Linked DNA regions of Homo sapiens: region 2 is linked to region 1. The links come from fine-mapping of genetic effects on gene expression. A gene starts in region 1. The other region holds a variant in brackets. All regions are shown on one strand. Distances are from middle to middle.

Region 1 (17,213 bases):
TTGGGCTGGGAAGTGGCTAAGACAGGGGATGAAGCTGGGCCTCTGCAGTTAATATCTTTAAGAATAAAAAGCACAGGAAGACAGATACCACATGATCTCACTTATACTTGGAATCTAAAAAAGCCAAACTCATAGAGGTAGAGAGTAGAATGGGGGTTACCGGAGGCTAAGGAGGAGGTAACAGGTGGGTGAAGAAAGGTGACATGTTAGTCAAAGCACACGAAATTCCAGTTAGACAGGAGGAGTATGTTCCAGTGATCTATTAGACAGCACAGCGACTATAGCTGATAATAATGTATATGTCAAAATTGTGTGAAGAGTAGATTTTAAATGTTCTCACCACAAAGAAATAAGTCAGCAAGCTGACAGTTAATTAGCCTGATTTGATCATTCCACATTGTATAGACATCATAACATCACCTCATCACCTTGTATCCCAGAAATATATATAATTATTACTTGTCAATTAAAAATAAAATAAACATTGTTTACAAAAAAGGATAATAGGAAGAAGAAGATGCAAAGAAAAATCTCCATTTGCAAATCTTTGACTCTTCCAGTAGTAAAGACCTGACAGGGAACTAGCTCTCTCTGTCTCAATCTCGGTCTCAACCTCTCTCTCTCTTTCTCTCTCTCGCTTGTCTCTCTCTCTCTCCATATATATATGTAGGTATGTGGAATCCTTGGCATTTCTGTGGCTAATGGAACACTGAATTGAGCTAGGGGAAGAATGGGGCTTACCTAGGAGAGTAATTTTTGCTCTGATTGTACTAAAGCTCATTACTATTTTAGTGCCATAATCTATCACAGGGGAAGCAACACATTCATTGCCTGGAATAACATGCTAAGTGGAACAGAAAATCAGGTAAGAAAATAGTGTGGTTAAAGCATCTGAAAGACTTAGGAACAAAGAGACTGAATGATGGGGCTAAAAAAGAATAAAAAAGAAGAAAGTTGAGAAAAAAAACCACATTGATTTCATTCTATAGATAGGCAAGCATAACAGAACAACATAAACAGCTGCCCAAGGATTATTTTTATTAAAAAAAAAAAATACAGGCTGGGCATGGTGGCTCATGCCTATAATCCCAGCACTTTGGGAGGCTGAGAGAGGCAGATCACTTGAGCTCAGGAATTCGAGACCAGCCTGGCCAACATGGTGAAACCCCATCTCTATGAAAATTACAAAAATTAGTTGGGCATGGTGGCGCACACCTGTACTCCCAGCTACTTGGGAGGGTGAGGCAGGAGAATTGCTTGAACCAGGGAGGTGGAGGTTGCAGTGAGCTGAGATCACACCACTGCACTCCAGCCTGGGTGACAGAGTGAGACTCCATCTCAAAAAAACAAAAAAAACAGACCAATGAAGGCTTCTTTCTACTCTACATGGAAGGTAGTTTTCTATTTCTATAACATATTTTTTATTCCTATAACAATATATCATCAAATATCTGCTTAGAAATCTGTTGACAGAGCCTGGGAAATCTTGATGAATGAATAAACAGGTAGACCAAGCAGAAACAATTTCTTGTTTTCATAAAGCATTCACCCCAATGTTAATATTTCATATTGGCAAATTTAAGCAACCTAACAGTTGGACCATGTAAACTATGGCCAAAAAAAAATTAAACTGCCAAGTAAGTATGAAACGAAATGGATATTCTTGACTGAACATATTAATATTTTGACTTCCAACTGCTTAAATACATAAGCTCTGTGCTGACTTGACTTTTAAAAAAGTTAAACCTATGACTTTTTAAATGAATACTTTCTGATCAACCATAAGAGATGATCACTCACTCATTTATTGATTAAATAACCATTTAATAAAACATCAGGTAGCTCCAACAACCCTATAACTCAAGTTGCAACAGTGTCCTTTCAGGAATGAGTAAAGGAGCCTGTTTGGGGGGAGGATGTAAAAGTCGTTGTCGAGGTCAACATTAAGTTTAGAGCCAGATAATAGGGTAACTGCTTGATCACCCTTGCTGTGATTTTCTAGCAAAGCTCTTTGTTTTCCATTCCTGATGATCACTGCCCTTCACTTTCCACAGTAACTCTCCCCTCGTACTGACGAACAGGAAAAAAACACTCAAGTCCTTTCTTACATAATGTGTTTTTTTGCAGGAGATCCAGAACTCAAAGATCCTTGATGCTTTTTATCAATTCCACTAAACGTCAAGGACAGGAAATAAAAACATTTTTCTCTTCCGACTCAAACACAATACCCCTTTGTGAAGCTGCTAAAAATCTAGAAATGGCAAATCTGGGAAAATTTTCAGGTGAGCGATAGGCATCAAAATATTTCATTTTTGCTAAAAATATCTCTTAAGTTTTTCTTAGCATTCCAACTCACATCACACTGAATTTGAGTACAAAGAACAGAATCTGTTTTACCCTTGTATTGGCAGTGACTTTGAGGTTATACAAAGGAGTCAAAGTAGCCTGTCCTATGACACTGAAGTCCCTGTAGGCATTTGCCAGTTCAGAGCAGTTCCTTTCAGAATGGAAACAGGAAAGATGGAAAAGGGAAGAGAGATCAATGCAAAATTCTGTATCTTCATTACTTGGCAACTGGAGTTTCAATCAAGGACCCAAGAGGTAACTTAGGCAAGTTGGGGAGTCCCTGAAAGCTAAACCCATGACAGTGAATCTTGTGTAGTCCTCAGCAGCTGCCCCAGCACAGATAAATGAGGCTTTCTAGGAAGCATAAGCATCCTAATGGCAGTAAGGCTGATCCAGTGTCCAGAGGGAAACGTGGTGGCAACAGAAGACACGTGTGGTCTGGGGTAGGCTTTGATGTTGCAGCTCCACAGCAACAGAGACACATGAGAAGAGATCAAAATAGAAGAACCACCCAGCCTTGCTTGGAGAGGAGGTGGAATGGAATGGAATAACTAGGTAACTAGGTAATAGAAAACCAGGTAACTAGGTAATGGAATAATTAGGGAACCACTGGGCACCTGGAGGCTTCTGGGCTCTTCTCTACTCTGCAGGCTTCTCTCTGACACATTAGAGGCCTCCCAGACTCAACTGCTCCCCTCGACAGGAGCAGAAAATAGACGACAGCTACATTTTCTTCAAGTCTTGCCAAGAAAAACCTTGCAGGGTTAAGAACACAAAAGCCTTCAAATATCTTGCTACTGAGGTTCTTTCTTATAAGTTTCAGTGTATACCCACACACAGAGAGTGAAGAAAATTCACTTTGATTCAAAGGGTTCAAGAATGTTCACAGTCTTTCGAGGAGTCACTATGTTTTTAAACTCTTTCAACAGCTCTATTTGTTCTCAAAAGAGTCATAGATTTATTTAATAGCAGTTTATCTTTCAGTTGGCCCATTACAAGCCGGAGCATAACACGTAAAGCATCCAGCATAATCACAGGTTTGGAATTGAGAAGGCTTGGTGGGGGTGGGGGGGTATCTGAAATATAAAGACAATATAAAGGCAAAGAGTTTGTCATGTTATTTGCTGCAGGGAAGCATGTCCATAGGTGAAAAAGTTGAATTTCACATAAAAATATAGAAGTAAACATCTGGAGAAGAAAGACTTTCATGGCAGGTTTGTGAATACGCCCCTAAAAATCCATCGCCCATTTTAAAGAAACAACTAGGGTCTGTGGAGCAACAGGGTGAAACAATCGTTCACTTAAGATACAGTAACATCTTTCTACCAAGTGATAAAAACCTATCACAAAATAAATACACACCACATGTGCTCCATAAAAGTATAACACAGAGGCGCCTTTGTTTTTTTAACAGAAACCTGGCCAAGATGTGAAGACCCAGACTGTGGCGCTATGTTTGGGACTCAGAGGTCTGACACGGGAGCTGAGACTCAGACCAAAGAATTAAGATAGTAACAACATGTTGTCAATTAATCATGCTCATAAGGTGGTCAAAATGACCATGAGGACACATTTCAGTCTACCGGACAGTATGCCAGCTTTCATTCTTGTGCTCAAAGACAAAGAAGAAAGCTTTAATTTGGTGCAATATGGGCCGAAAGTTTAGTTGTCATATATATTAAACTCAGCCTACAGTCTTACTTGAGTAAATTTCATGAAAAATCCAATTTTCTTAAATGTAAGTTATGTTAGGGAAAAAACACTATCTCCACAGGAGCTCAGAGATGTCCCTAACAATACACTCAAACATATTTCATGTATTTTATGTTTTTATGTTTAAACTTATAAATGTAAATTAATATATTTCTATTAAAATTCATAAAATATATATGTACATTTATAATATAAATTAAATACCTTCAGCTGAGTTAGACATTCTGTGCCTTGAAGGACACCAGTTATTTTAGGAACAAATACTCTTTATTGAGGAAGAAAGTGCTGGATCCACCAATGGAATGAACACCCACATCTCTTAGACATAGTTCCATGCGTTACCTTCTTCCCCACAAACCGCATGTTTGTGCAATTAGCTTTCATCAAATCAACATATTAGTCACCAAAAAACATGCTGATGAAAACAAAGACAGGCTAGTTGCTTATTTCTTGAAAGTGAACAGTTCCTTTGGCCATTATATAAGATAATCAGTTTTGCCAGCATCGAAACAGATAATGCTTTAAAAATAATGTGAGGACAATGTTACAATTTTTTCAGTTCTTATTTTCAATTTATTGGCGTTGACTCATATGAGCCCTATATAGCAAGTTGTTCTCTCTTACTGTAGATACCTGCACTTACATACATATAAGACCATCCTCTGACTTCAGGAAATACTGAGGTCAGGTTCCCTGGCAGTAGGGAAGCTGCTATGATGGGATGGATTTCTGGAAACAATTGAAATATCAACGTGGAATAAACTTTATAAATACTTATCTTAAGGGAGTGTTGGCAGAAGCAAGGAAAATGGGTCAACTTCAGGAAATAGCACAGCCTATTTAAAGGCAAAAAAATCAAGAAACAAAAGGGAGTTCAGTTGCTGGTAAATCAGTTTTCTCTTTCTAACAAGTTTATTTATATGCATTTTTCTCTTCTTCCTATAAGGAAGGTATTTTTTCCTTCCTTTAAGTTTTTACTGTTAAATTCACACATTCACATTTTTTTAGTCCTTAATTACCCTGACTGAGTAATTTGAGAGCAGAAACCTCTGGCCATCAGGAAAAAAAAAAAGAAAAGAAAGAAAGAGAGAAAAACACATGTCCAAAAATTCCCTAAGCTTTTCCATATTCCTAAAAGCAAAATGTAACACTAGCAGTGTAAATAAAATCAATACACTGAGAACTCCTAAGGCTGGTTCTCAATGGAACCAGCCATTCCATTCTTGGAATGAAAACCTGAAACGGAAACGAGGAAGATGAAATGAGATTCTACCTAAAAAGACTCCAACAGATTGAGGGCTAGTGTGAAAATCCCAGGATGTGTAATGAGGGGAGGGGAGTAAGCTCTATGGTCAGAGCTCCCATCCAGCCCAGAGTGGCCCAGCAGAAGTCAGGCAAACACAGACGCAGTCCACATCGCTGCTCTACCACAAGCATGGCTGAGTTCGGCTTTTCAGATGTCGGACCTGGGGTGGGCCCTAGGAGGGGCTCAGAAACCAGAGCGACTTTTCAAGTTGTGTCCTTTATGGTATTTGCAGGGAAAGGGCCAACAATAGCCAAGGGGCTGTTTACCAAAGTCATTCTCCAGCACCTCCCACAGAAACGCTTGTGGAAATCACTGCCAAAGCTTACATGGGAATCAAACAGAAGGAACTGAGCACAGCCATGTAAAACATGCCCCAGTCATTTCGTAAGCTCTGTTTCTTCACAGATGGCTGCTGTGGAAGAAATGACTGCTTACAGAAAGCAGAGATCCAAAAATTAATCCAGCCACTGGGATGAAAGCAGGATGAAAAATGATCCTGTTCTATAATTCACATTGGTGATTTACCAGGTCTGGGCTATAAGACATCTAGGGATAAAACTGCTACTCAAAAGCAGATCTGGCAAAGGTGAGGAAACGGTGTGAAGGGCAGGTACTGCTGAAGATCTCTAGAGTCAAAAAAGGATTCACCAAATTAAAATAGAATGTTTCACAGACCAGTAAAGCCAGATGGGAGTTGGTAGCTCATACATATCCTTGTATTTCCAAGAGATGGGAGACTCCAGACTCTGAAAGGGACCAAACACAAGCTCACCTGCTGCGGCAGTACCCAGAGCTGAAAAGAGAGGATGCCAAAGGAATCCAGCCTTCCCGAATCTACACTCTCAAGGCTGGGCTTTGGGACTCTAAGGGTCTAATAAGCTATGGCTCTTATTTTATATCATTACAACAACTGCTTTGGTTCCTTCATTCTTTCACTACTTACCTGTGCTTCTTTACATTTCACAGGTTGATGATACATTACTGCTTTGGATTTCCCTTCAGTTTCATGGTTCAATCCAATGCCCACGTCTACATTTCTTTCACTGCCTTTATACTGCTGTACAGTTAGACTTCATCTGCTACTCCACACACACACAAATCTCTCCCTACTTCCTCACTCCTCATTTCCTGTTGGGAGCTAAGTTTAAAGCTTCATCCTTCTAGATCTACTCAACATTCCTTTTTAAAAGGTAGAGAACAAGGAACGTAGCAGCTGTGTTCGCTGAGCCATTGAATTCACACTGCCCAGCAGCCCTTGAAAGTCAACTGCAGCGTCCATCAGGGCAAGGACTGACAGTTTGTTTCAACACTGAATATGGTTAGTACCTGGCAAGGAGCAGGAGTTCAATAACTCTTGGCAATAATTCGTCATCATTTTCCCCCTGAAATCCATTTTATTATTCTTTTTTTTTCTTTTCAGGCTAGAGTGCAGTGGTGCGATCTCAGCTCACTGTAACCTCCACCTCCCGGGTTCAAGCGATTCTCCTGCCTCAGCCTCCTGAATAGCTGGGATTACAGGTGCCCATCACCACACCCGGCTAACTTTTGTATTTTTAGTAGAGATAGAGTTTCGCCACGTTGGCCAGGCTGGTCTCGAACGCCTGATCTCAGGTGATCCACCTGCCTCAGCCTCCCAAAGTGCTAGGATTACAGGCGTAAGCCACTGCATCTGGCCCGTTTTATTCTTTTATTCTCAAATTATTCTCTCTACAGGACAAGAGAAGGTTTAAAAATCACTGAATCATGATTTTAGGGAAATATTCAACCTAAAAGGCAGGGCCAAAATCTCAAAGGGTCCCAAATTTATCCCAACAGCCAAAGTTCCTCCTCCTCCTCTTTCTCCTTCTTTTCCTACTCCTGTTTTTCTTCTTCTTCATATCTTGAACCACATGACAAGAAAAAAAAATCTAGACTCTTTACCTATATTAATTAATTTACTCTTCATGAAAACCACATAAGGTAGTTACTATATTATGTCCATTTTTACAGACGAGGAAACAAACGATTGTGTTGCCTGCCAAAGATCAGCACACAACTGAGAAGCTGCAAATCCAGGATTTGAACTCAGGCCATCTCACTCTAGAATGTCAGCTCCTAGCTGCCCTGCATACTATGTCCTGAAGGAGAGCTCTTAAGAAGGCCAACTGAAGCCTATGGGGAACAGTATCCTGGTCATTCATTTCCCAAATTGTTATTGAGTGTCTACTATATACCAGGTGCAGGGAATACCCCCAACAGCCATGGTCACTGTTCCTGTCTAGTCAACATTCCTGTTGCTTTCCTAATTGCCATTTGTTATAGCTCCCAGAGAGTAAGCATGCTGAATCCATTAGAAAAGGAAACTCAAGAGTGAGTTCTTCTTCCATATCTTTATCCTTTAAACTTTATTATAGAGAACAATTGCCACTCCTCTCAGCATTAGTTGGGACTCCAGCAAGAACCAGCTAGGACTATGTATCAGCCTGGAATGCATAGTTACAGAACTAAATGGAAATGGGAAAATGAATACAACGGTGTTAGGAAGTCCCTCTCTGCCCGATGATTAGATTGAGGAGATGTATTGGCAGCTGTAAGGAGGGTGGCTTATTCTTGCCCCTTCTTCCCTTGGGAAGGTCTTCAAAATTGGAGGAGTTATGGCTGCCCAGTCACCTTCTAGTCACCTTACAGAGAGAGCAGGAGAGCAGAGTGGCACATACCCTCAGGCAGGATTCCTGAGTCAAAGGCTGGCTGCTGACACTTGCAGCCTCTCGGTTTTATTTGACCTTCACCTTGTGCGGAACCCACCCGCGCAGCACAGGACAAACCCCTTCTCCCGGGACTGCTGAATCAGCCACTCTGGGAGTGGCAGGAGAGAAGTTTCAGACTCCTGAGACATTTGGTCTATTCAGCACCATGAAGAAAACGGCTGTAGCTCAGTGAGAGAATCACAATCAGGAGCTGGCTGAATAAAGGTGATAAAAATAGATTTCCCGACTCCACAAAGATGAATCATTTTGCCATAGGGATTCGCCAGGCTCTGTTTCAACCTGATTTTCAACCCAGCCTCATAAATTTGGCTAAGGAAAATTTTCTTCCCCTAGATAACCAGTGCCATGGAACGTTTAGCATTCAGACGGGTCTGACGGGATTTTATGAGACAATTGTCCAGAAATAACCCCCATTCCTTTCCCGGCCTGCAGTAAATAGTGACTATGAAGGACAAGGACTAAGTGGGCAAGGCTGGAGATGCAGCCCTTCCCTCCAGACTCCTCCCTGCCTCCCCAATGTCTTCCTTGCTTCTTTTCCTCCTCATTTTAAGAAATGGAAGTTTTTAAAAAGCAAAGGGGGCTGTGGAGTCAGGAGCAGAATGTGACAGGGGCTCAGGTGAAGCAGCCCCACCATGAATGCAGCCACATCTCCCCCACAACACCATGTGCTGCTGGACCACATCTTAAAAATGCAGCCAAGTTGCTTCTCATTCTCAAAATTCTCAAAAATCCTTTTTATTTTGACTAAACTAATGGAGTTATGTGTCTTGTACCACATACCGGAAAATAAAAAACAATGCTTTCCTTAGGGAATTAAAAAAAAAAAAAAGCTTAATTAAAAGCAACAGGTGCTAACAGTTATCAAAGGACAAGATGAATCCACAGGAAAGTAATTTTCATATTATTTTCGCCATACTAATAAGTGAATAAAAAGTCACTTTTTTTTAAACCAAGTATTAAAGTCTAAATAGCTTCCTTCTTTCCATCATGGATACCCCTAAGCATGTATTTCTTTTATAATGAATTTTACTTACCCCCACACGTCCTCATGCTCCGCAATGAACTCCAGCCAACCCACTCTGGGAGATGGGAGGGGCATCTCTCCTGTGTGCTCCTCGTCAGCCCCAGCACAGCAGCCGAAATGCCCTTACATTTCCTTTCCCAAAACAGTCGTCACCACTGCCAACCCCTGCTCTGTCCACAAGCAGGCTGCTGCGGCTGAAATGCTGATGCAGTGAAAGGGAACTGGAAGACAGCTGATTGCCACACCTATTGGAGAGGGAGGCGGAGAAGCCCATTCCCTCTGAGGAAAAGGAATGGCATCTTCAGAAGTAGAGATGCCAGGATTGGAATTGTGCAGAGAGCTTTGTGTCAGCCACTAGCACACAGTAGGTTTGCAGTACTGTCAGGAAATCTGGATCTAGAAAAAGCACCCAAGTGGGACCCGAGGAACAAAGACTCACTCCAGTCCCAACTCTGGAACAAAGTTGCTGCCTGACTCCAGGCAAGTCACTGCCTTCTGGTCTCAGTTTCCTTATTTGTAAAATAACAATGTTTCAAAAAGTAAATCTCTAAGTGGCTTCTAGTTCTGGGATTCTAAGACCATCCTAATGTTCATGAGCATAATAAAAAGTAAACTACCATTTATTGAAAACATCCTGTGTACCATCCATCATATTAGGTATTTTATGTATATCATCTCATTTAATCCCACAATGCTGAGATGGGATTTATCAACCCCATCTTATAGATGAGGAAACTGGCAAACTCACTCCATGAATCCCCATGAAAAAAAAGGATCATCATATTCCTTCAGTGTTTTGAATTTAAATGGAGGCATTCAATCTTTGTGCCTGAAATTGAGATGACATCTGAGAATGGAATTTCTGCACTGCTGGGAGATTAATGTGTTTACAGTCCTCTGCTGGTATAATTCTGAGGTACTAGTATTTATGGTTATGGCTGTTCATGCTACTGCAAAATCCATTTTCCACCTGTTGCTTTTTATTAAACCTCCCTAAAGGACATGAACTATTTCTTTCTGCAGATTCTAAAAGCAGGATGCTGAAATATGTGAGCAGAAGCATCGTGTGCGGAGTTACCATTTGGAATTTTCAAATGCTATAAAACACAATGTTTACAACCAATTCATCATTTATAAAAGTTTATTGGATTAATATGCCAATGGACTCACTGGTATCCTGCCATTTATTGACACAAATACATCAAGTGGTAGGCTGACATTTAATATTTATTAATAACTTCTGTATTTCCTTACCTATTTCATAGTTTCCTTGCATTATGCTCTTTTATCTTTATTGTCATTCATCCTACTTTAAGTGAACTTTTTATTTTAGAATAGTTTTTAGATTTATAGAAAGCTACAAAGATAATATGCAGAGTTTCAGTATAACTCATGTCTTACATCTTACATTCCTATGGTACATCTACATTTATCACAGTTAAGAAATAAACACTGGTACACTACTATTAACTAAATCCATGTTTTATTTGGATTTCATTAGTTTTTCCCTAATATGCTCTTTCTGTTTTAAGATCCCATCTATAATGCCATATAATATTTAATCATTATGTCTCCTTAACTTTTTCTGGACTTTCCTTGTTTCTCAGATATGCCTTGCTTTTGATGGCCTTGACAGTTTTGAAGAATACTGGTCGGGTATTTTGTAGAATATCCTTCCATTTAGGTTTGTCTGATATTCTTTCCATGGCTGGGGATATAGGTTTTTGTGAGGAAAAAGTACCATTCTTTTAACACTGAGGGAAAAGAGGAAAAGTACCATTCCTATATAACATTATATCAATCATCCTATTTTTAATGTTATGTTTAAGTTAAATCAAAAACTTAAACTGAATATAGTTAAATTTTAGAAAGGAAAAATTAGATATCAAACTACTCAGAAATCTAGTATTTTATACTGTGGACAGAGCGACAGAGAGGAATTAATTTTTGTACCATTTGAGATGAAGGTAGACCTAACATTCTAGCAGAAAGCCAGCTAATTACAAGAGAGGCGTCTAGCGAGTTCTTTTGAAATGCTTGCCAAGACAAACTTCCTACAAAAACAATCCAGAGGAAGGCACGTTTTAAGAGAAGTGCTGTTTCAGCCTAGCATGGTCTCATACTTCATACATTTGGTGGTATTTTTTTCCTGTTGTCAAACAACCAAATCCCTATAAACCTGGGTTTGGAATACATGCTAAGAATTAGTTCCACAGAAAGTTATCCTCTAGGTAAGCTATAACTATGGAAAAAAAGGAGTCAGACGTCAGCTGAAATATGTATTTCCTGCTATTATATATTTTTTGCTCACAGTTTGTAATTGAAGGTCTATTCCTAAGGGAAAAAAGTGAGGAACTGATGTAATGTCACAAATTCTGCTAAACGCTGTTCAACGAAAGATAAGGGAGAACAAGTGGTTTCTTTCTTCAAAGAATGGCATTTTTTGTTTTTTCGGGAACAGGAAAGGGAAAAAAAAATGAAGTTGGGGAAAAAAAAGCTTTACAGCACTGCTATATATAACCTTCCACCTCTGCAGAGACACAGAATAATTATGGAAACAAATTTGGAAAAATAGTTTGTGGTGGTGCAGAAAGAGGATATTAGACTTCAGCTAGCAAGTCTAGGCATTCAAAACACACGTGAATAAGAATTTAAGGGCTTAGCTGGCTAACCCACTGTTACGAGCTAAATTGTCTCCTCCTCCCTCCCCCAATTCGTATCTTGAACTCCTAACCCGTTCTAACTCAGAATGTGACTGTAGTGACTGTAAGAAGGTAATTAAGTTATATGAGGTCATCTGAGGGGGCCCTAATCCAATACGACAGTGTCCTTATAAAAAGGCAAAATATGGACACAGATACATACAGGGGAAAGACCACGTGAAGATGCAGGGAAAGGCAGCCATCTGGGAGCCAAGGAGACAGGCCTTAGAACAAACCCACTCTGATCACACCTTGATCTCAGACTTCTAACCTACAGAATTGACAAAATAAATTTCTATTATTTAAGCCATCCAATCTGTGGTACTTTGTTATGGCCATCAGAGCAAATTAATATACTCATCTAGTACTAAGAATGAAATATCAGGGGTATAAGAGAGGCTGCAGGGCACAAGATTGGATGGATATGATATCTCAATGAATTGTCAATTATATGAAGATCTTTCTTTTCTTTTCTTTTTTTTTTTTTTTTTTTTTTGTGACAGGGTCCGACTCCCATCACCCAGGCTGGAGTCCAGTGGCACATTCAAAGCTCACTGCAGGCTTGACTTCCCAGGCCCAGGTGATTCTCCTACCTCAGCCTCCTAAGTAGCTGGGACTACAGGCATGCACAACCATGCCTGGCTAATTTTTTGTATTTTTAGTAAAGACAAGATTTTGCCATGTTGCCTAGGCTGGTCTTGAACTCCTGGGCTCAAGCGATCACCTGCCTTAGGCTCCCAAAGTTCTGGGATTATAGGCATGAGCCACTGCACCGGTCTTTCTGTCATGATTTTCAATTCTAAGTGCAATTGCTAATGACTTTTCCTGTAGTCTCAAACTCCTTTTTTCACTCCTTTCTCCATATCCCAGTCCCTGCCAATGTGGATCAAACACTCCAAAGACAATACTATAATTTGGAGGGGGAGGGGAACTTCATAGTGGTTATAGAAAAAAAAAATATGTCTTCATTTATACTGAAGCATAGGATTTAACTTCAAAATAGTCCATCCATTAACCTAGTCCAATTTTTTGTAACTTTTTCCTTGAGTTCCAAACCAGCATTTCTAATAGTCTGCCAGACATCTGCACATGAATATCTTTTAGAGATAGCCAACTCAATATGTCCAAAAGAGAATGCATCTTTTCTTTTGGAGCTCATTTCTCATTCCCATGTTCCCATGATTCCTATTAATGGCATCAGTACCCTCCACACTGCTCAAGTCCAAAATGCAAATGTCATCTTCCTAAAATTATCTGTTGTATTTCATCAGTTCTAAGATGTACACCTTTTTTAACCTCTGAAATAAAGATGCATTTTTTTCATTGCCAGTGTCTTAGCATTGTGTCATCATTGAATTGGCAGCTTTTTTAAATGAGCTATAATTTTTAAAAATGGTGTGTGTCATCATTGATGGCATATTACATTTAGTGAAAAGTAAATCCTGTCTCCTCATCTCTAATCCCACTGCTTCTACTAAGGTTTAAGTGTCCATCCTCTCTCATTTGGACTACTTATCTCCTACTTGACTTTTATTGCTGGTATCTTGCCATAATCAGCTTTCTATACGGCCACCTCAGTTATCTGGAACACGAGATTCCCTTGTTTTCAGTGGCTTTTACTGCACACAAAATGAGTCCAAACACCCCCAGATGGCATTTCTGGTCTCAGCTTACTATTCCTGGTCTAGTTTCCAAGCATGGATTTTCTCAGGGACTCTGCGTCCAGCTGCAGCCACTGGACCCAGTGCAAATAATGCAAATGATAGCCACTTCCAGATAAGACCCAGGTCCTTCTGACTCAGAGCCTTTCTCATTCCATGCCCTGAAGCTAGTTGTTCTTCCTCTAACTCCATGATCTTCACTATTTGTAGACGCCCTGTTCAAATCCCACCCCTTCCAAAGTTCTTAATCACAAATCAAAATTTCTTCCTTGGTCTTTCTTGCATATTATACTTCATTAACATTTCACAGTCTACCTTACATTTGACCTTTCTTCTATATTTGTCTTCTAGAAAGTAGTCTCCTAAAAGGCAGGAATTATGTCTTGAAGTGGATTTTTACTTGGAAGGCAAGAGAGAGAACACATCATCTCTATTTGGTATATATGTGCAGAAGAAAATTAGAAAAAAGTCCTTGGATGTCATGCAAGAAAGGTTAACCAAGGAAAACTGTGTTATCTTTAAAGTCCTATAAGCACAAGGAGCCGGTGTTCAGGAGAATGAGAGATCTATGCCCTGGCTGCTCAATAGACGGATACAACCATTTCATTCATCGGGACAAGCAGCTTCTGAAGAGCTCCCAGAGATCCCTTCCTCCTGGCATTCAGACCCTTGTGGGACCTCCTCCCCTTGAATGTGGGCTGGGCCTAGCAACTTGCTTTTAATTAATAGAATAAGGCAGAACTGACAAAACATCACTTCAGAGATTAGGTTATAAAGGACTGTGACTTCCATCTCACTTGTTGTCTCCCTCCCTTTCTCTTTCTTTCTTTCTCAGGCCCTTCCTGCTTGCTCACTCTGATGATGCAAGCTGCAACCCTGTAAGCTGTTCTATAGAAAGACCCACATGGCAAGTACACAAGGATGGCTTTGGCCAACAGCCTGTGAGGAACTGAATCCTGCCAATATCCACGAGTAAGCTTAGAAACGGAAGTTCTAAGCTCCCTACTCTGGCCTGGAAATGATACTGACCAACACCTTGAATGCAGCCTTGTGAGGGACCCTGAACCAGAGACCCAGCTAAGCCTTGCTCATATTCCTGACCCATGAGAACAATGAGATGATAAATGTTGTTGTTTTAAGCCACTAAGTTCTGGGGTAATTTGTTATAGAGCAATTAATAACTAAAACTCTCACCAAATAAAAGAAAACCAGAAAGGACATAATAATCACAAGATGAGTGAAGGGACAAAAAATTCTTATTAAGTCTTCCCAAATACCCACAAAAGATGCGCAAGGGGACTAACTTATTGGTCTGATCCAAGCACATCAGTGAACAACCAAAAGCCAGCCTGCTCCAGTGGGCATCAGAACTCCCCTTCACCCGGTCCAACCTACAGTGGAGAATGGCTCTTGCCATCTGACACACTTTTATCACTGTATTCACGATGTGGTCAAGCCTTTTGGTGTAGGTCATGAACCATCTGTTGCCCTGGTTTCCGAGTGTGATGTACAAAGTGAGAGATAAATGTTACTTTTGAATGTTACTCGAATGTTACTTTCACTCAGGAAGAGCCTTAAATACGTTTCTGAAGTGTTTGGATTTTATTCCACATTCAGTAGGGAGCCATATAAAATTATGAGAAGATGAGGGACACGAGATGACCTGTACATTTTTTACAAGCTAACTGTAAAGGCTGTTTCAAACAGCAGCACACAAGCCATATCAACCTGGGAGGCAGTAAATAAACTTAGAATCCCCAAGTTCATATTCCACCTTTCAATTGAATGCAGGTGGAATGCACCAAAGACCTCGTGTGTTTTGTTGTTTTTCCCTGCGGTGTGTAGTCTTTCATGGCTAGACCTACTAAAATGCTAACCATCACTCCTATGTTGGCTTGGCTTTGGCATCAAACTTGAGAGCAGCAAATTGAGCATTCCCTCTGTGTGTGGTGTGGGAACGCAACCGAGGTTTCTCATACTGTGCCAGGGATGAGGATAAAGGAAAGTGTGTCATTAAATTCCATTTTGGCTGAGAAACCTCACAATGTCTATTCATTTCCCTCAGTGAATATGCCTTCTTCACACAGAACATCGCTTGGCTACCAGTTTTTACTTGTTCCCCTAAAGAAGGGGAGGACGACCCCTGGAGACTCCGGATCGTACCATGCAACTACTACAGAGAACACAGAGTAGCAGGAAAAACACATGAGGGTTTTTATTCCAAGCCCTTCCTTCTCCCCTACCCATGAAGGAGAATTCTGTCTTCCTGTCTCTGAGTCTTTGTTGTCCAGAATCAGAATCAGGGGCAAAAGGAGCCGAGTCTAGCTGGATTGATTTGCACTGGAAAGAGCTAACCATTAGTCATAGCAGACAAAAGGGTAAGAAGCAAGGAAGGCAAGAACTAGCACAGTGTGAGGCTCAAAGATTTGAGGTCACTGGGCATAGAGAGGTTTGGGAGAGTTGGCAAGTATAAGGTGTGTATGTGTGTGTGTGTGTGTGTGTGTGTGTGTGTGTGTGTGTGTGACAGAGAAAGACTGTAGAAGAGAAAGAGAGGAGGGCATTTTAGGTAATTCTGCTGCATATTATGAATAAAATCACTCTGACTTTTTTTTTAAGACTCCAGTAAAGAATTCTAATGCTTTCCTATGATCACTTGTTAGGTATGGCCACATGAAGCCTGATTTGATAGTGGCCATGGTAGAAACATTACATGTAGCAGTGCCTTTTTCAAAAAGGCCACTTCCTCAATTTGGTTGAATTAATAAATTTTAAATGAGAGAGTCTGATTTCTAACAACTTAGGTCTCCTTAGAGGTTGATGTCTCCAAACAAATGTTCGGAAAGTGTTGAGATTCAATTCTATATCCTAGGGTCTAATGGAGAGAGTATAACACAGTAGAAAAGGCACAGATGTAGAGTTGGGCAAACCCAGGTTCAAGTACCAACTCTGCCTCTTATTAGTTGGAAAGCTGGTGACATTTCTTTGAACTTTAGAGTAAAGATACAGCAATAACAACATCACAGGTGTGTTGTAAAGATTAGGAAGGATGATCTAGCACTGCACCTGGGGCAGGGTAGGAATGTGATACGTGATGGTTATCACTGTGGTAACTTTCACCTCTAACCTCCCTCTTCCCTGCCTTGCCTGCTTCCTGGCCAAAAAAAAAAAAAAAAAAAAATTTTTTTTTTTTTTTTTTTTTTTTTAGGCGGGGTTTCGCTCTTGTAGCCCCGGCTGGAGTGCAATGGCACAATCTCGGCTCACTGCCTGGGTTCAAGCAATTCTCCTGCCTTAGCCTCCCAAGTAGCTGGGATTACGGGCACACACCACCATGCCAGGCTAATTTTTGTACTTTTAGTAGAGACAGGGTTTCACCATGTTGGCCAGGCTAATCTCGAACTCCTGACCTCAGGTGATCTGCATGCCTTGGCCTCCCAAAGTGCTGGGATTACAGGCATGAGCCACCATGCCTGGCCAAAAAACAACAATTTTAACTGGAGGAGAGACCGAGCCCGGAGAACAGAACTTTAACCAGTTTTTTCTAAGGTAATCTATAAGATAAACCACTGGAGGGAAGGTAAAGTTCTAGAAGAGAAGACATTGATCAGGATGAGTTGAGGCACACCAGAGCTAATTCTTAGGAAGGATGTGCAGGAAACCTTTTCTTGACAGCTAGACACCCAAAGCAGTGAGGACCCCAATTTATTGCATTGTTAT
Region 2 (14,688 bases), 180 kb after region 1:
CTTCAAGCATATCACTTACCATTTCCGTGCTTCCATTTTCCCATCTGTAAAACGGCCATAAACAGTGCTTGCTTGAGAAGTATCTTATATATCAGGCACTGTGCTGGGTGTTTGTTCTATACACAATATACCACCTCATGCAAGCACCTACACTACCACTCAAGCAAGCTCCTAGACTACCGCTTGTACATGGTAAGTGTTCCAGAAGTGTGTTTGCTGTTATTTTTATTTGGCACTGAACTAGCCATTTTTATCACTATTATCACACTCTGTCAACTCTAACAGCATAATGAATCAGGCTTCTACTTGTCACTGGCCCCTCCTATTTATGACATCTTGCATGGTCCCTTAGGGAAAAAGGTGGCAACCTCATCTGTTGGCTGATGACAACATTCAGCTCCACAGGCAACTTTTTTTTTAATTTTCCATAGGAAAAGAAGAGGGGATGCTATTTCTCAGTGCTCCCATTGGGTCATGACAATTAACAGTCACAGCCGTGGCCATTTATTGATACCATGGATACCAGCTACTAGTCAGTTATTTTGGGTTTTTTTCCTTTAAAAATACCTGTCTAATAAGAACTCATACAGGTGACCACTATAATAAAAATTCTTCCATTTCTTTTTAGATTCACTATCATTGGAAGTGCTCTATCTTTCCCTCATCCTAAGAAGTGGGAATTAGCTAGACTTCTATAACAGGTGAAAGAGAGGTTTGCTTTGACTTAGGGAAAGAAAGAGAAGGTGAGAGCCCTAAGGCCGAATGCTGGGGGCATGTTTATTTAAAGAAAAGAGATGTCTGCTCTCCCGCCTTGCAGCCAGGAACTCCAACGAGCCCTGACCCAGTCTAACTTGAGGGGAGGGTTAGCACCCTAAAGAATATCTTCACCCAAGGGCCAACAGAGAAATCACCCTCCGAGTGTCCAATCACTGACTGTCTCCAGGCAACTATTGGGTAAACTGCTTTTTTTAATCACTACAAAACACACACACACACACACACTTTGCTTCCTGTCAGGGCAGCAACAGAGTCTATTTTCTCTGCCACAGCCAAGTCCAAGTGCCAATCAGGCAACCGTAGCTGGGCACAGACTCACTGAGAAAGCGCTCAGGCAGTGGGGAAATGTGGCTGTGAGGCCCTAGTGAGGAACAGCCTGGCTGAAACAAGGAGGGAACAGGGTGATGACTAAGACGCAGTCCTTGGCCACAGGGCTCTGGGGTTCACCAAAGGAGGCAAATCCCCCCACCACACACACACACAAAAAAAATTCGTGATAGTAAAATACAGCAACTTTTCTAAAAAAAAGGCAAAAACTGAGGCTCAGGTGTGTACAAAGAAGGGAAGGATTAATGAGCTTAGAGGAATCAGGGACCATGCTGCAGAGGCAGTCGGGTTTAAGCTCTATCTTGAAAGGATTTGTCCCTGGAGAAGTGGAGAAGGGGCATTCCAGGTTGTGGCTACCCCAATAGCCATTCTCCCCTTTTTCCTGAGGAATACAACTCAAGAATATTATCTGAGCATTACTCCTGCCTGGGGTAAAAGATCCTTCTCCAGAGTCTCTCCTATATACAGAAAGGGCCATGTTCCTGAAGTTCTGGGCAATAAAATAGTAGCCAGTATGTCAGAAAGGGTTTCCCAGAAGCCACCTTATATGGGAAGGATGCACTCTTCACTTTCCTTGCCTCCATCCAGCTTCCTGGAAAGGTGATGTGATCACGACTCTCCAGCAGCCATGTTAGACTGGGAAGATGGGGGAGGGGGTCTAAGAATGGTAGTTCAAGTGTTGAAAGGAATCTCAGTCAAGGACCTCCAGGGTTTACAATTTATGAGGATCCCAAAGGGCACCTGGCTTTAGTAGTTTATAAAGCCCCCTCTTTTGGAAGAATTTGGGAAAAGTTCCCAAATGAGAAGACATCTGTGGGTCACCACCCTAAGTCTCACACAAAATGGCTCTCTTCCCTCACTGAAAAGCAAGCAGGTTTCCCGCAGCCCCTTCCTGCTAAGAGTGGAGTACAGCCTCTACAGCCTCTATTTTGTCCAAGAATTTTAATCCAGAGTCTAGGCTCAAACACAAATCCCAAAGTCCTCTCCGCATTTTTCTTAGAAGAGTTCTTATCTGTGCCTCAGATGTAAAATGGACAGTGGATCATCATGCAAACTCTGAGTGGCCTGCAAGGAATATTCAAGAACTTCCGAGGCAGGTACCTTCACCCCCTGCCCTACCACCAACACATATCTACCTTCAATAGACCTAGAGAAATTTAAGAGTGTTTCTACCCTACCTTGTTTCAAAACACAATCATAATAAAAGTATGTGTAGCATCCAACGCAAGCCCTTTTCTCAATAAATCATCATCAATCAAATTCTCCTGCTTAGAATTCTTCCGTGGTCTTAGCTTAAATCTTATTTTCACTAAGAATCCTTGTCTTTTTAAAGAGTGCTTTTCTCTTAATCCCCCCTGCCCCATTCTTTGTCTTCATAGTATGTATTCCAAATCGTAATTATATATGTATTGTTTAATCTCTCTGTCCCCCTGCCACATTGTATATTTCATGAGGGCAGGAAGTATGTTTATTTTGTTCATTACCTAACACCATGCCTAACACTATGCTGCACATTGTTGGAGCTCAGTAAACACTTTTCAGGAAATAATTTTTGAAAGCACACTTTCACACATTAAAATATTAATGCTTATTTTTGCCACTGTTTATACTGAAGCAAACTTACAAATGAGTGATAGCCAAGTCTCCCAAATAATTATTTTCATATTTTAACAATTTGACTGAGCTTATTGTCGCTTTCATTCCATTTCAATTGGAATAAGATATTCAATTAAAATAAAATAATTGTTCAAAATATTTTTTAAACACTTCTGAGGGGAGAAAAAGATAGCTATGTACTCATTGCAATAAATATAACTTCAGTTCCTCACTTGGTGCAGACCCATTTGGTGAACATACTTGGCAAAAAAATAAGGCTGAGGAATTTTTTTTAACAGTTTTCAGTCATGGAAATGAAAAAGCTACAAGTCCTTCTGTTCTTGACCTTGATTTCTTTTTTTTTTTTTTTTTTTTATGATGGAGTCTCGCACTGCCGCCCAGGCTGGAGTGCAGTGGCGCGATTTTGGCTCACTGCAAGTTCCGCCTCCCAGGTTCACACCATTCTCCTGTTTCAGCGTTCCGAGTAGCTGGGACTACAGGTGCCTGCCACCACGCCCGGATGATTTTTCTTTCCTTTTTTTTTTTTTTTTTTTTTTGGATTTTTAGTAGAGACAGGGTTTCACTGTGTTAGCCAGAATGGTCTGGATCTCCAAACCTCATGATCCACCAGCCTTGGCCTCCCATAGTGCTGGGATTACAGGCGTGAGCCACCGCACCTAGCCGACCTTGATTTTAAAAGCAAGTGCAGGTGTATTCCTCCATGGCCTCCTAATGGGCTATCTAGGGGTGAATGGGTGGGGCAGTCCCTAACTTACACTGACCAGGAGGCCAAGCTGCAGCCTCCAACAGCCACACTAGAGTAACTCTCACAGGCAAAATGCAGGACAGTGGAAACATGGAGCTTTCCCAACCTAACCAATATTTTATTCTTAAGGTCTCAGCATAGAGCACAGTTTTGCTGACAGTGGGAAAAGGTATCAGCCAAGTTATTTCTTAGGTGCATTTTATATGACTATATCATCTGTCCTTTTCCTGATGCCAAAGGTAATTCCCTGAGATACACTAGCCATCCTGATATGGTTTGGCTCTGTGTCCCCACCCAAATCTCATCTCAAGTTGTAATCCCCACATGTCAGGACAGGGAGCCTGCAGGGAGATGACTGGATCACGGGGGCGGTTACCCCATGCTGTTCTCATGATGGTGAGTGAGTTCTCATGAGAGCTAATGGTTTTAAAAGCATTTGGCAGTTCCCTCTTCGCTTGCTCTCTCTCTCCTGCCACCATATGAGACCTGTCTTGCTTCCCCTTTGCCTTCCATCATAATTATAAGTTTCTTGAGGCCTCCCCAGCCACGTGGAACTGTAAGTCAGTTAAACCTCCTTTCTTTATAAATTACCCAGTCTCAGGTCGTATCTTTATGGCAGTATGTAAATGAACTAATACACATCCCATCAGGGTTAGATGCATGGGCATCTCTTTGGAAGTGTTGTTTTCAATATTGCAAACATGGAATTTTATCACAGCAGAACTGAATTCCACGGCATCATTCCTCCTTGAAATATAACATCTTATGTCCAGACAGAAGTCTTTCCAATATTCTATCATTTTTTTAAGAACTATTTTTCCCCTATATTATCTTTAGCCCTCTAGTTTAGGCTATTTTTATATTTCTCAATCACTTAAAACCAAAGTTCTATTATCCCTTCCTTTCCTGATTTAATAGCACTGAAGTCATCCTTTTATCTACCCTACCCTTCCTCCAAAAAAGATCATATCTGATACCTTTCTTCTGCCTCAGATGTAAACACACACACATCCTAAGGAACATATGAGGTGTTCTATTATAAAATTGTATTGTACTTTTTAAAAAATCTCAGAACAGTGAACTGGGCTTAAAAGGAAAACCTAATTCCAGTAAGAACAGTTTGGTCAAAAATCAACCAGTGTTAACTGATTCTGTCCTGAATCATGAAAATCAAGGCCAAAATACAAAATACAAAATGTATTTTGCGCCACTTCGAGGGGCCAACTGTACATAGACTTTAGCAGGCACATAATAAGCACCCAATAAATAGTACCTTTTATCATCAGCAACATCAGCATCATTAACATAATTTTTATCATCATGTTATCCCCCAACTATGATGCTTTTAAGCTTCAGAATGGTCTAAAGCAAAAAGAGAAGCTGCCAGGCCAATTTCTAGTACTCCTAGAGCTGCCTAGTCCCACCTAGCACTGACTGCCACTCACAGAATCAAGGCCAACTGTCTACATCATGGCTCTATTGTCATCCATCAGCAGAGAGCTGGAGGCCAAGAGACCCAGTGGCTGAGAACACATGCTCAGCCTTCCCTTTCTTGGTAGCCAGTGCTCAGTCTGCCCTTTGGAGCTCGCCTGATGCAACTGGTTTCCAGGGAGATGCCGGGGCAAGAAGTGCCAGCTCCACCTCCCATTCCGCATCCCCTTTCCCCAAATCTGTGGGACCTCACTGTTTTCCTACCATGTGACAGCATTGTGTCATAGCTGCTCTTGTATACAAACAAGCTAGACTATTTAAATGTCATTGTGAGAAAGATGCCGCCTGCTCTCATTTACATATCTATTCAGACCACTACTCCTTCCTTGATCTAGCCAGAAAAGTTTTTTCTTCCTCTTCCTTGGCAACTTATGCAAAGCTGGAGGACCATCTGCAAAGTTAACTACCTGTTGGGATAAAAAGATGTTAAGAATCTAGTCCCTACAGAGGTGGAGAATTAGAATGACTACATGTATAACTTATGGTATTACATCACAAAAGTCATATGTTACTGGCCATTAAATGCTAAATTATCTCAAAAGCTATTCATAAATTTTCCCTACTGCCAAACAACACAAGCATCTTTTGGTCTTGGAGAGCTATGATACCCTCAGTGTTTTTAATCTTCAGAATTAGGTCCCAGCTGAATAAGAAAACAATTCTATGTGGGCAGCAGGGAATGAACCAAAATGAGAAACTGATCCCTTCCAGCACTAGTTCTCACTCTTGTGAAGTATGGATTAGGTCACAAATAAGATTGTATTCATCACCAAGCCCCATGGGCACACTCTGATTGAAGGTAAAGGAGTCCAGGAACTTCTCAAGTTGAGAAATAAGGCTGAGTTGGGTTGAAATTTCCAGTCCCTCCCTAAAGGCCTGGGAACCTGTTCCAAATCATAACCGAAACCAAGTCGAAGGACATCTGTTTCTTCAGAAAGTGTTTGGCACTGAAAAGAAGAACCACAGATTAGAACAGATAAATATTGTTGTGGGTGGTGAGGCCAAGAGAAGCGGGGAATCAGGAAAATCAGAGTCATCTAACCTACTAATAAACTCTTGTAACTCAATAAATACCACCAAAAAAAAAGAAGGAAATAATAAAAGGGAGGAAGAGGGAAAGAAAATCAATGGAAGAATTCTTCTTATTCCTAGCAGGAGTTGACACAACCTCAGTGAATAAAATTCTGCTGCATTTAGATGAATATTTGGACCCATTATTTGTATAATGATTTAATATTAGATCATCTACAAGAACAAGAGGAGAGGCATTGAGCATTCTGCTTGGAGTTTGGTAACAAAGATTATACATTAAACTTACATATTCAGCATAATATTGAAGAATAATTTTCTAAGCTTTGATGGACTACCAAGATCACTTTATGAGTAGATATTAAAGGTTTTTCTCTGATCCCCAAGTCACTTTTAGTGCAAATTAGAGTGACATGTAGCATCTAGTTAACTTCGACTCCAGGTATCCAGAGTTAACAGAGTGAGATAATAGGATGAAATCAGTAGGCAATTGAATCATATTTTCTACCCGGGAAATCTGGTGTTCTGAATCATTTCTTTCAAAATCAACCTTAGTTGTTATTAACAACAGAAAAAAACAATAGCAATAGCAGTAGTAGTAATAATTATCATAATGATAATAGTAGTAGTAAAAGTAACAGCAGTGGTAATAATAATGGTAATAATACTACTAACCATACTTACACAGCACTTCCTATGTACTGGGCACTGTTCTAAGCATTTTAAATATATTAATTGATTTAATCCTGACAGCACTCCTATGAAATAGGTGAGCTGTTATTAGTATCCTGTTTTACAGATGCTCTCAATAATAACTCTTAGTCATTTTTGTTGTTGCTAACAACTAGAGCTATCTTCCAAAGAAATCATTTGGAACCACAGTAAAGGAAAAGTAGCTTGCTCAGGGTCATCCAGCTACAAAGTAACAGACTCTGGACTCAAACCTAGGATGCCCAGCTCCAAGGTCTGACCTCTCACCTACTGTGTTCTGCTTAGTAAGGCCTTCTAGAAAAGTAGTATGGAAAGAAGTTAGTCACTCCCCTGCCTGCTGGTAGCCACAGTTACTACTTCAAGTTTGCTGTCTCCTCTAGGAGTCTTCCCAAACACAGTTAGATGTGCAACCTGTTCCTACAGCTATAAAAAGTCACTAGGAGTGTTAAAGGGCTGTCCCCACGTGGTCTGTGACCATCTAGTGCTCCGTTAGAGCTTTCACCTTTGCCAACTAAGGAAGGAGTGAGGGGAAGGGGGCTGAAGTGGGGGAATCGTTCCCAGGCCACATTTCCTGCCCAGTAACACGGTCCTCAAATAGCCAAGGCTGCACGCCGAGAAATTCCTCACTAACAAGTTACGTCCTGGATCTGGTTCCCTGAGCCTTTATTAAGAATGAATGTTTTCTTGCCAATCCATGACTCAAGGAAGACCAAGAATCGAGGCGAGACAAGCAGCAAAGTTTGTTTATTAACTTGCTCCACCCAAGGGAACATTTTTATGAAAGGGTGAAATTCCTGACTACTCAAAAAGAAGAAAGAAAGAAAAAAAACCTATGGGAAATTTAATCACCAACTGAATAAAAGTAAAAACAAAGCCCTACCAATGAGGATGCTGCCAGAGACAATGGGGCCCCTAGAGGAGTTGCAATTGTCTCGAGATACCAATCCCCAATCCGCCCCCCCACCCGGGGATTCACTGCCCCTAAGTACTACATTATTGCTGTATTAGCTGAGGAATCTTTGTTCACAAGGCAACTGCATGCAAAACCATCTGTTACAACTTCTGGGTTCCCGTGGTTTGCAGACTCGGCATTTACATTTCAAGAAGAACCTCTGGGAAGGAAGGGGGAGG[T/C]CTCTATCTTTCCCCTGGAGCAATTACCTTTTTATATAGCCTGGGAGGGGGAAGCTCTCCTTTCCCTGAAACTGAACCCAACAATTGAAAGGAGATAGGCCACTTCAATAATGCACACGCAGCTCGCCTGGGCTGCCTGGTCCTAAAGCCACGCATGCCCCATTACGGTTTTCACATTCTTAAATTGGTATGAATGGTAAAGCATCAAGAACAATCCCAAACTGTCTATAGGGCTTAATGAGGTTCTACTGTCTTAAGGAATCCCTTCTTCCTTTTCTTAAACGTGATATTAAAGCTAATATTCTGCACTGCATAATAGCCTGAAATATACTACCACTTAAAAGCAAACTGTAATCTGGGCCAAAGGAGACATTTTGTATCTTGATTTAGGTGGGGGCTATAGTAATATACATATGTCAAAATTCATGGAGGTGTACACTTCAGATTTGTGCACTTTTACATGTGTAACTCATACCACAATACATTTTTAAAGCAGAATATGTCAATGATACAGTTAAGGAAATTGAGAATAAATCACTTGCCTTCAAGAATAGTAAAGACTGTTCTGCTTCTAGATCCTCCCCTTACCCCCACCCACACTCGAAGTCTCTCCTGAGAATTTTAGAGTTCAAGAACCTGAAAAATAGTTATCCAACTCTGCAATAAGCCAGTAACTACAAATGCTTCCTGTGTATCCTGGGAGCATAAGTACGCAACACAGGCAGAGCACCTGTCACACGCCAAACCGTTCCAGCCACATATCAAAAATAAAAAGCCAAGGTCTTTTTCTCATCTGATGGTGAGTTATCAAATTATGAGACATGCCTGGGGCTTTCAGCAAGACAGCCCTGATGTTCATTGTTCTGTTTCTTGAACCCTATTTTCAAACAGATGTTTCTATACTCAAGTAGCACTCTTGCTTGCGGGAAGCAGGTTAACCCTGTAGGGTACAGGTCTCTGGCTGGAGCAGGAGAGCAGCATTAAGTGAGGGTGGTTTCTGCAGGAAGCTCAGCAGGTTTAAATCTGTACGTGGAGCTCTTGTTACTCTAGCAGCTTCTTGGGAACCACAATGCTGAACGGAGTGGGGAGTCACTAAGTGACAGGCGGAATTCTGGAAGCTTCAACATTGCTGGGTCATGATTTAGCGATACACTTCCTCCTCTGAACTACCAGGCAAAGAGGGCTGCTTGTCACTGAGGGAAACAAGGCCAAATTCATACCTTCCACTAAGCCTCCAGAAAGGCCACCCATTGAAGCTGAGGCTCCTTGCACTAATCATAGGGGGTCACCTTTCCCCTTCATGCCCTTCAAGCGTCCTGAACCCCGCAGACAGTTCATTTCGGGAGCTCGGGGCTACCAAGCTGCATCTACTGATAGACATCGTGAATCAGGATCACCCAGTGAGCGCTTCCGGGACTGAGAGCCGAGAGCTCCAGTGATTTCCCTGGCCTGCCAACGAGTTATTTAAGAAGTGAAATATGCCAACCAGACCGGGTAGCCCGTACTTCGGAACCGACCCTGCAGTCCTTGGGATGGAGAGGGGCGGGGGTTGCCAAAGGCTGGGCAGCGTCTATGCGGATGCGTGCTCGCAGGTGGGTCTTGCAAGCTACCCCCGCCCTGCGCACTGTGCCAGCCTCACACCTGACCCGGTGCCAGGAATACAGCAAGAGGCTCCGGTGGGTATGCGCCTCCGTGAAGACACTGCCAACTCTGCTCCGGAAGGGTGCGGGGTAGGGGGACAAGGGGCGAAATGTGGGACCAGAAGCAAGATACCCCGAAATGCGAGCACCGGTGAAGTCTCTGGGGGCTCGCGCTTCCTGCGCCTTTGCAACGCTTTGCTAGCACTGCGCTTCCCTTGGCAGCGCCTGGAAGCGGCGCTAGCTGAGATTTGCGAGGCCAGCGGGCAGGAAGGATGGACGCGCAGGGGATCCCTTCCTGCCCTCACGCGCGCAGCTAGACTGCAGTGTCCCCTTTCACGCCCACCCTCGCCCGGGATTCCAATGCCAAAGCGCTAAGGTTTCGCGGCTCGCCGAGGCCCGGGGGGGTGACCTGGAGCAGCTGGCAAAAGAAAGTGGGGGCGGTTGGGGGGAGGCAAGGCTGGACCTGCGGTCGGAGCGTGCGCGGGTCCGTGGCTCAGGGCGCCAGTGCAAGGCCGCCCGCCAGCCACCCGCACCTACCTCAATCCACTTCTGCGCCTCGGAGAAGGCGGGCTCGGGGGGCGGCTCGGGCTGCAGGGGCTGAAGAGCTTCCAGACCGAGAGCGGGACAAGCCATTTGCGCAGCCCCGCGTCCTCTCAAGCGCCGGGATGAGGACGGCCGCCGCCGTCGCCGCCGCAGGAGCGCGCTCCCCGCCCCTTCCCGCCCGCCGGCCTCCCCTCCCCGCCTCTCCCCGCCCCCGGCCGGCGCAGGTCCCGGGAGAGCCGCGCGCTGCTAGAGGACGCCGCGGCAGCTGTTCCCGGCGCCGCCCGGGCTCCAACGCGCCGTGAGTGACCCGCGGGAGCGAGCGCGGAGGCGCCGGGAGCTTCTTCTCCTCCCCACCTTCGAGGGCCGCTCCGCCCCCGGGGAGGGGGAGCACAGCTACGGACTAAAAATAACCCGGAGCGAGCGCTGCGTGTCTCCCTCCCGTTCACACCCGGCCCGATAGAGGGAATCCGCTGGCCGCCCCGCACGTCCCTGCGCCCCGCCGGCTGCTGAGGGGCGGGCGGATGGGTCTGGCATCATATGGGAGACGCGCGCCCAGTGGGGCGCACCCGGGCCCGGGGGAGCGGGCGCTGCGGCACCGGAGCAGTAGGACGCGCGGGCACTGGCCGCGCAGCACCTGCAGTCCTTCCTGGCCGCAGAGGTAGGGGCAAGGCGGGGCAGCCCCTGGCCCGGCGCCGGGAAGTACACAGCCACCTGATCTTTTTGTAAGAAGAAAAAGAAAAACGACCCTGATGAGCTTTTCTTCTCCAGGAAGGCTACCTGTGTCCTAGTCTGTCGATGCAGTCAACCAACAGTCACTGTGCACCTACTATGCGTCAGGCACTGGGCCAGGCGCTGGGGACGCAGAGATGGAAACACACACACACACACACACACACACACACACCCTACACACCCTACCCACACACACCCTACCTGGAAGTCCTTGCCCTCGAGGTATCTACATTGTAGAGGGAATTGGGGGCCGGGACAGACAATAAACATGTAAATCAAAAGAAGATAATTGTGGCGGGTGTTGTTAAGATAAAAGAGGAGAAGATAATGACATGGAAAGAAAAAGCGCGGGGTAATTTCCGATAGCCTTCCCCCCTTTTGGCTGGGAGGCTGACCTGTGAGTCGCGGTTCCATTAACGGGAGGTAGGCAGATGGTCAGTGAGCTGAAGAGAGACGTGCATTTATTTATCTCGTCCCTTCCTGCAGGTGGTTAGGGGGTTTCCAGAAGGTTCCTCATCTCCTCTTGTCCCACTCAACCTCCCAGGCCTAGGTATGGTAAAGGCTTCCCCATCCCATAATGGTCTCCCGATCCGGCTCACTTCTTTCTAACCCTTCCTTTAAACTCTCCTTGGCCACTCCCACTTGAGCATGCCTTCTGTTTTGCACTACAGCCCAAGTGACGATCAAGGAAGGTGTCTGTAAGGAAATGTCCTGAAGAGGTGACATGAGTGAGGGAGATTTAACTGTGTAACAATTTGGGGGAAGAATTCCAGATGGATGCCAAGGCCTTAAGGTAGGAATGAGCTTCCCCGTGGAGGAGCCCACAGCGGGCCAGCAAGACTGGAGCTGGTGTGGAGAGCACCAGGCGGGAATGATAGCATGGGAGAGGCAGGCCAGGTCCCGCCTGCGGGTGAGGGGGCACACACTACCTTTTAGATTGTTGCCTGGGTATACCCTGGTAGGCCACCAGGGAGCTCTGACCTACGTGAGCCCAGCGCTGGGTCCGGAGGAGCTCAGTATTCTTGGCCTAACCTCAAGCTAATGGATTCCCCTCTTCAGAATGGCTGCTAACAAGAGGTTTCTGACGGTGGCTGGAGGTCCCTGGGTGCCTCAGCCTCTAAATCTCTGTTCCCCATCCAGAATCCGAGTTTAATCTTTGTCCAATTCTGCTGCTATAATAGGGGAATGGAACAAAAAGCAGGCCTCAAATTCCACCATTACCAGCTTTGGAGTCAGACAGGCTTTAGTTTATTTGCTTTGAAAACACTTACGTGGCACTTATACTGTGCCAGGCACTGTTCTAAGTGCATTACAAATAATTGACTAACTCAGTCCTTATTCCAGCTCTGTAAGATAGGACTGTTATCATCCCTACGAGGAAACCAGGGGACAGAGCTGGTGGACAGGGAGGGTTGGATTCAAGCCCAGACAGCCTGGCGCCAGATTTGCTCCTAACTGCACACCAAGCTGTCTTACCAGTCCTGTCCAGACTCCCACTTACAGTGTGTCCCTCAGTTTCCTCACCTAAAATGAGGTGGATATAGTCATCCAGCAGAATCATTGTGAAAGGCACGAACAAGGGGACTGAATGTAAACAGACCAAAGCTGGACCTGACAAACAAGCAGTTGCTGAGTACAGACCACTGATCCTCACCTCCACCCTGCTGTCCAAAACAGAGGGAGGGAAAAGTATACAAAGAAGAGATAAAGAAGGCAAGCATGGGAAAGGGCTAAAGACGTGTGGGCAGAAGATGACCTTGTTTCCATAAAGAAACATGGCAAAGCAAACAGTCCACAAAATGACTCTGGTACACTAATACAATATATGGCTTTGGGCAGTGATATGATCTGGCTCCATGTCCCCACCCAAATCTCATCTTGAATTATAATCTGAATTGTAATCCCTACATGTTGAGGAAGGGACCTGGTGGGAGGTGATTAGATCATGGGAGCAGTTTCCACCGTGCTGTTCTCATGGTAGTGAATGAGTTCTCATAAAATCTGATGGCTTAAAAGTGTCTGGCAGTTCCCTCTTTGTTCTCTTTCTCCTGCCGCCTTGTGAAGAAGGCACTTGCTTCTCCATCTCCTTCTGCCATGATTGTAAGTTCCTGAGGCCTCCCCAGCCATGTGGAACTATGAGTCAATTAAACCTCTTTTCTTTATAAATTACCCAGTCTCAGGTATGTGTTTATAGCAGTGTGAGAATGGGCTAATATAGGCAGGTTCCACTGCATGGAGTAACTAGGAGGAAGGGAAGCGAGCTAGCCCAGATGGTATATCTAAATCCATTTGAAAATGAGTATTAAATTTTATCATATCTCTAATATATCTGGCATTGAAATTGGCATTTAAATAAAACTTTTTTCCTTCAGTGAAAATACATTTTACATCTTTTAAGGTTTATAATCATAAGGTAACATTTGCTTTTTCTGAGCTTTTACCAATCACAAATTCACGCTAGCAAAGACCCACAGACTTAGAACCATAATAGAATTCAAACCTAGTGCTGCTATCAATAATATCCATAAATAGTTGTTAAGAACCTACTATGTGGAAGATACAGAAGAATCCACAAGGGGACACAGACTATGCCCTTTAGGAGCTAATAATTTTGTGTTTTTTTTTATTTATTTAAATTTTTAATTTTTGTGGGTATATACCTGGTATATACATCTATGAAGTATATGGGATATTTTGATAAAGGCATAAAATATGTAATAATCACACCAAAGTAAATGGCATATCCATCACCTCAAGCATTTATCTTTTGTGTTACAAATAATCCAATTATACTCTTTTAGTTTTTGTTTGTTTGTTTGTTTTTGAGACAGAGTCTTGCTCTGTCACCCAGGCTGAAGTGCAGTGGCTCAATCTGGGCTTACTGCAACCTCCACCTCCTAGGTTCAAGTGATTCTCCTGCCTCAGCCTCCCAAGTAGCTGGGATTACAGGCGCCCGCCACCACGCCCGGCTATGTTTTGTATTTTTAGTAGAGACAGGGTTTCACCATTTTGGCCAGGATGGTCTTGATCTCCTGACCTCATGATCTGCCCACCTTGGCCTCCCAGAGTGCTGGGATTACAGGCATGAGCCACCATGCCCAGCCTAGTTATTTTTAAATTTACAATTAAATTATTCACTATAGTCACCCTGTTGTGCTATCAAATACTAGATCTTATTTATTCTTCCTATTTTTTGTACCCGTTAACCATCCCCACTTCCAATCCAATCCCCACCACAACTACCCTTCCCAGCCTTTGGTAGCCATCAGTCTGCTATCTCCATGAGTTCAATTGTTTTAATTTTTAGCTCCCACAAATAGGTGAGAACATGCTAAGTTTGTCTTTCTGTGCCTGGTTTATTTCACTTATCACAATGACCTCCTGTTCCATCCATGTTGTTGCAAATGACAGAATCTCATTCTTTTCTATGGCTCAGTAGTACTTCGTAGTACTTTGTTAGTGAAATGATATTTTCATTTCTCTATAATGTAGTTCTTTCAAATATAAAAGTAATATGTGCCATTGGAGAAAATTTGGAAAATATAATGAAGAAAATAAATCTTGAAGAAACCCCACAATTCAGAGATTATCATGATTTGGGGGGTATGAAGTAACATTTTGGGGTTTTTTGTTTTTGTTTTTGTTTTTTTGAAACAGAGTCTCACTCTATCACCCAGGCTAGAGTGCAGTGGCGTGATCTCGGCTCACTGCAACTCCACCACCAGGGTTCAAGCAATTCTCTTGCCTCAGCCTCCTAAGTAGCTGGGATTACAGGCACCCACCACCATGCCTGGCTAATTTTGTTTGTTTGTTTGTTTGTTTGTTTGTTTGTTTTTTAGTAGAGATGGGGTTTTACCATATTGGCCAGGCTGGTTTCGAACTCTTGACCTCAAGTGATCTACCCAGCTCCCCCACCTCCCAAAGTGCTGGGATTACAGGGGAGAG

The links. PIP is the estimated chance that this variant, and not a neighbour inherited with it, causes the effect.
Region 2: its variant is fine-mapped to the expression of LIMCH1 in iPS cells (PhLiPS, PIP 0.95).

What each region holds. Positions count from the first base shown.
Region 1 is chr4:41,530,284-41,547,496 of GRCh38, reverse strand. It overlaps LIMCH1 (LIM and calponin homology domains 1), which reads right to left and starts at 9,340. Exons shown (of 32, transcript NM_001330672.2): 1 at 9,147-9,340. It overlaps LOC105374423 (a long non-coding RNA gene), which reads left to right. Exons shown (of 4, transcript XR_001741667.2): 3 at 2,128-2,282; 4 at 3,761-4,043.
Region 2 is chr4:41,356,254-41,370,941 of GRCh38, reverse strand. It overlaps a transcript of LIMCH1 not described here. Among named protein-coding and RNA genes, the nearest start is that of UCHL1, 110 kb to the right of the region's middle. RefSeq lists an enhancer at 7,457-8,118. The variant T/C (reference allele first, on the strand shown) is at 7,829.